2 separate regions of the Homo sapiens genome follow, and region 2 is linked to region 1. The links come from fine-mapping of genetic effects on gene expression. A gene starts in region 1. The other region holds a variant in brackets. All regions are shown on one strand. Distances are from middle to middle. Region 1 holds the start of MAP3K11 (mitogen-activated protein kinase kinase kinase 11). Region 2 overlaps PACS1 (phosphofurin acidic cluster sorting protein 1).

Region 1 (2,907 bases):
AATTGAGGCTCCGAGTTGGAGTAACCAGCTAGAGGTCATGAAGCCAGGGAGGGCTAGGCCAGAATTCCAGCCCTGGCCTTAGCCTTGACTGCCAAGGAGGGCTTCCCTCTCTGAGATATCTGTTCTGGAGGAGCTGCCCATGACGACGGGAGGGGAGGACAGAGCACCAACTCCACGAACATGAATTTAGGGGAGGAGAAGATGAGGAGCACGAGCTTCCAGAGGACTTCCTTGAGGTGGGAGCCATGGCTGGGCAGGATGCTTATGGCCCACCTGAGAGATACCAATTTCTTAACTTGTCCAAACCGCAGCTGCAGGCTGGGGTCAAGGACTTCTGAAGCTGGCGCAGGAAGACTCTGCTGGGTGCCTGGGGCTCTGTTTGGGGGCTAGCTTGAGCCCATGGGCACCCCTGGTCAGCTGGGACCCCCTAGGGTGGGAGCTCCTACCTGCAGTAGACCCTAAGCTAGGCTCAGTGGAAGGTTGGGAGCAGGTGTGTACCAGAGCCATGCCACCCCCAACCATGCCCCCAGAAACTCACTGTTGTTGGACTTGAGATCACGGTGGATGACGGGCACCAGGGCCTCGCAGTGCAGGTAGTGCATCCCACGGGCAATCTGCACAGCCCAGTTGACCAGCACATGGGGAGGCACGCGCCGCCCGGCCAGAGCTCGGCTGAGGGGCCCACCGGCTGCATACTCCATCACCAGGCACAGGTTGGGCTCCTCCAGGCACACAGCCTTGAGGGCAATGATGTTGGGGTGTGCCAGCATGGCGAAGAGCCGGGCCTCCTGGCGAACGCTCTCGGCTGTCACACTGATGTCCTCATCGGGGTCCTGGCGAGCTGCCTTCACAGCCACCAGCTCACCTCGCCAGCTGCCCCTGTACACCTTGCCAAAGCCTCCAATGCCGATCACCTCCTCCAGCCGCAGCTCCTGGAAGCTGGCCACCTCGCAGGGGGGCGGGCCGCCACCCCGAGACACATAGTTGGACGGGAAGATGCCCACCTGGCCACCCACCTGGCCCGCCCACCAGCCCTCGTCTCCTGAGATGGCTGCGTCCCGGGACAGCACCTCCACACGGTCACCCTTCCTCAGGGCCAGCTCATCCTGCCCACTGGGCTCGTAGTCGAACAGGGCTGTCCACACCGGGTTGGCATAACCCGCTGCCTTTGGAGACCCCTCAGGCCGGCCTCCTCCACCGCCCCCACCACCCCCGCTGCCACTGCCATTCCATGACCCTAGAGGGCTCTTGAGGAAGAGGCTCTTCAAGGGCTCCATGGCCGGGAGCCGGCGCTGGGATGTGTGGAGGACCTTCTCTGGGTGCCCGTGGTCCCCACCCCCGCTGGCTGCCAAGGCCCTAGTCCCGGAACCTGGGCATCCGGGCCCTGGCCCTCAGCCCCAGACCCACGCCTCTCTGGGGAGCCAGGAGTGTTGTCTCCCGGCCCCCCGCATCTCGGGCTTCTGGAGGAGGGCACCCAGGGCAGTGTGGTCAGGCCGGGGGGGTGGGGCCCCGGGGCCTCCGGCGCCTCACCATGGCTAGCTTGGAGGGACCCGAGCTTCCCTCGGTTCTGGAGCAGTCCTGGGAGCCTGGCTCCGGCCCCCGCCAAGTGTAAGGTGGGGCCTTCAGGGGCAGCGCCTCAACTCCGGTTGGGTCTTTTTGCGCAGGGGGTGGAGGGAGCGTCCGCAGTTGGGCCGAGACTGCCTGTTCCTGGCCCCGTCTCCTTTGGCCCCGACGGCTCCGACCCCGCTCCCTTCTTCCTCCTCCCTTTGTACTTTGGCCCCGGGGGCGGGAGGCAGAGGTGGAGGGTGGAGTTTCACTTTTTTCCGCTCTTCTCCCTCCTGCAGGAAACAGCATCAGATGACGCGGGCGGCCTGCACCGCTCCCCTCCCAGAGGCTCCAGGCGGGGAGTTCCCGGGTAGGCGGGCCAGGAGAGGCAGAGAGGGAAAGGGCAGAACCAGATCCCCCATCACAGCAGGCTTTTGAGATCTAGAAAGAAAAGCCCCCAGCTGCGTGCTCTGCTGCCTAGGGTGGAGGTTGGTCTCTGCTAAGGATGGGCCATCTCTGCCCTCTGCATCCGCATCGGCGGCAGCAAAACGGGGTTACAGAACCACACTTGGGAAGGGGGTGAACCCGAGTCTGGTCTTGGCTGCGAAGTTGTGGGACTGTGCGATCCATCGATTCTGAGCCTCATTATTTTCTTTCTTTTTTCTTCTTTTGAGACGGAGTCTTGCTCTGTCGCCCAGGCTGGTATGCAATGGCGCAGTCTAAGCTCACTGCAACCTCCGCCTCCCGGGTTCAAGAGATTCTCCTGCCTCAGCCTCCCGAGTAGCTGGGACTACCGGCGCGTGGCACCACGGCCGGCTAATTTTTGTATTTTTAGTGGAGACGGGTTTCACCATGTTGGCCATGCTGGTCTCAAACCCCTGACCTCGTGATCCTCCCGCCTCGGCCTCCCAAAGTGTTGGGATTACAGGCGTGAGCCACCGCGCCCGGCCATTCTTTTCATATATGATATGAGGACGAGAAAGCTCTGCCTCGTAGAGCTAGTTGGATGGGGTGGGGAAGACTGGAGGACAGACGGAACTGGCTGCACCTCAAGCTCTTGGAGTGGATTGCCTAAGGCTCTCTTCTTCTCCTCACCTGGGAAACAATCCGCTTCTTCATATCCCTTCCCCATTGGCAGAAACCTGAGACTTGTCCAGAACTTTGCCCAGGATTGGATTCAGAATAGCTGAGTCGCCCTCACAACTTCTGGATAGGGCTGCCCCAATTGCTTTGAGCCTGTCACTTTAAGAAAGACGACGCTATCCTATTTCGACTATTCCTGCCTGTTACGGAAGGTTGTTCTCTACACCCTAGGTCTGAGCTCTGACCCGGAAGTAGACGCCGCTGGGAGCGAAATCGGTC
Region 2 (2,907 bases), 480 kb after region 1:
CTTTGGGTGTATACCCAGTAATGGGATGGCTGGGTCAAATGGTATTTCTAGTTCTAGATCCCTGAGGAATCGCCACATTGACTTCCACAGTGGTTGAACTAGTTTACAGTCCCACCAACAGTGTAAAAGTGTTCCTATTTCTCCACATCCTCTCCAGCACCTGTTGTTTCTTGACTTTTTAATGATTGCCATTCTAACTGGTGTGAGATGGTATCTCATTGTGGTTTTGATTTGCATTTCTCTGATGGCCAGTGATGGTGAGCATTTTTTCATGTCTTTTTTGGCTGCATAAATGTCTTCTTTTGAGAAGTGTCTGTTCATGTCCTTCGCCCACTTTTTGATGGGGTTGTTGGTTTTTTTCTTGTAAATTTGTTTGAGTTCACTGTAGATTCTGGATATTAGCCCTTTGTCAGATGAGTAGGTTGCGAAAATTCTCTCCCATTTTGTAGGTTGCCTGTTCACTCTGATGGTAGTTTCTTTTGCTGTGCAGAAGCTCTTGAGTTTAATTAGATCCCATTTGTCAATTTTGGCTTTTGTTGCCATTGCTTTTGGTGTTTTAGACATGAAGTCCTTGCCCATGCCTATGTCCTGAATGGTAATGCCTAGGTTTTCTTCTAAGGTTTTTATGGTTTTAGGTCTAACGTTTAAGTCTTTAATCCATCTTGAATTAATTTTTGTATAAGGTGTAAGGAAGGGATCCAGTTTCAGCTTTCTACATATGGCTAGCCAGTTTTCCCAGCACCATTTATTAAATAGAGAATCCTTTCCCCATTGCTTGTTTTTCTCAGGTTTGTCAAAGATCAGATAGTTGTAGATATGCGGCGTTATTTCTGAGGGCTCTGTTCTGTTCCATTGATCTATATCTCTGTTTGGTACCATGCTGTTTCGGTTACTGTAGCCTTATAGTATAGTTTGAAGTCAGGTAGCGTGATGCCTCCAGCTTTGTTCTTTTGGCTTAGGATTGACTTGGTGATGCGGGCCCTTTTTTGGTTCCATATGAACTTTAAAGTAGTTTTTTCCAATTCTGTGAAGAAAGTCATTGGTAGCTTGATGGGGATGGCATTGAATCTATAAATTACCTTGGGCAGTATGGCCATTTTCACGATATTGATTCTTCCTACCCATGAGCATGGAATGTTCTTCTATTTGTTTGTATCCTCTTTTATTTCATTGAGCAGTGGTTTGTAGTTCTCCTTGAAGAGGTCCTTCACGTCCCGTGTAAGTTGGATTCCTAGGTATAAAGAGTCAAGACCCATCAGTGTGCTGTATTCAGGAAACCCATCTCACGTGCAGAGACACACATAGGCTCAAAATAAAAGGATGGAGGAAGATCTACCAAGCAAATGGAAAACAAAAAAAGGCAGGGGTTGCAATCCTAGTCTCTGATAAAACAGACTTTAAACCAACAAAGATCAAAAGAGACAAAGAAGGCCATTACATAATGGTAAAGGGATCAATTCAACAAGAAGAGCTAACTATCCTAAATATATATGCACCCAATACAGGAGCACCCAGATTCATAAAGCAAGTCCTGAGTGACCTACAAAGAGACTTAGACTCCCACACAATAATAATGGGAGACTTTAACACCCCACTGTCAACATTAGACAGATCAACAAGA[T/C]AGAAAGTTAACAAGGATACCCAGGAATTGAACTCACCTCTGCACCAAGCGGACCTAATAGACATCTACAGAACTCTCCACCCCAAATCAACAGAATATACATTTTTTTCAGCACCACACCACACCTATTCCAAAATTGACCACATAGTTGGAAGTAAAGCTCTCCTCAGCAAATGTAAAAGATCAGACATTATAACAAACTGTCTCTCAGACCACATTGCAATCAAACTAGAACTCAGGATTAAGAATCTCACTCAAAACCACTCAACTACATGGAAACTGAACAACCTGCTCCTGAATGACTACTGGGTACATAACAAAATGAAGGCAGAAATAAAGATGTTCTTTGAAACCAACGAGAACAAAGACACAACATACCAGAATCTCTGGGACGCATTCAAAGCAGTGTGTAGAGGGAAATTTATAGCACTAAATGCCCACAAGAGAAAGCAGGGAAGATCCAAAATTGACACCCTAACATCACAATTAAAAGAACTAGAAAAGCAAGAGCAAACACATTCAAAAGCTAGCAGAAGGCAAGAAATAACTAAAATCAGAGCAGAACTGAAGGAAATAGAGACACAAAAAACCCTTCAAAAATTAATGAATCCAGGAGCTGGTTTTTTGAAAGGATCAACAAAATTGATAGACCGCTAGCAAGACTAATAAAGAAAAAAAGAGAGAAGAATCAAATAGACGCAATAAAAAATGATAAAGGGGATATCACCACCGATCCCACAGAAATACAAACTACCATCAGAGAATACTACAAACACCTCTACGCAAATAAACTAGAAAATCTAGAAGAAATGGATAAATTCCTCGACACATACACCCTCCCAAGACTAAACCAGGAAGAAGTTGAATCTCTGAATAGACCAATAACAGGCTCTGAAATTGTGGCAATAATCAATAGCTTACCAACCAAAAAGAGTCCAGTACCAGATGGATTCACAGCTGAATTCTACCAGAGGTACAAGGAGGAACTGGTACCATTCCTTCTGAAACTATTCCAATCAACAGAAAAGGAGGGAATCCTCCCTAACTCATTTTATGAGGCCAGCATCATCCTGATACCAAAGCCGGGCAGAGACACAACCAAAAAAGAGAATTTTAGACCAATATCCTTGATGAACATCGATGCAAAAATCCTCAATAAAATACTGGCAAACCGAATCCAGCAGCACATCCAAAAGCTTATCCACCATGATCAAGTGGGCTTCATCCCTGGGATGCAAGGCTGGTTCAATATACACAAATCAATAAATGTAATCCAGCATATAAAC

What was found. PIP is the estimated chance that this variant, and not a neighbour inherited with it, causes the effect.
Region 2: its variant is fine-mapped to the expression of MAP3K11 in adrenal gland (GTEx, PIP 0.98).

What each region holds. Positions count from the first base shown.
Region 1 is chr11:65,612,480-65,615,386 of GRCh38, forward strand. MAP3K11 (mitogen-activated protein kinase kinase kinase 11) reads right to left here and starts at 1,742. Exons shown (of 10, transcript NM_002419.4): 1 at 539-1,742. The coding sequence starts at 1,277. RefSeq lists enhancers at 177-1,064, 1,782-2,211, 1,953-2,839, 2,722-2,771, 2,832-2,907 and a silencer at 1,352-1,531.
Region 2 is chr11:66,092,021-66,094,927 of GRCh38, forward strand. The region is part of intron 1 of PACS1 (phosphofurin acidic cluster sorting protein 1); the gene reads left to right. Among named protein-coding and RNA genes, the nearest start is that of PACS1, 23 kb to the left of the region's middle. The variant T/C (reference allele first, on the strand shown) is at 1,622.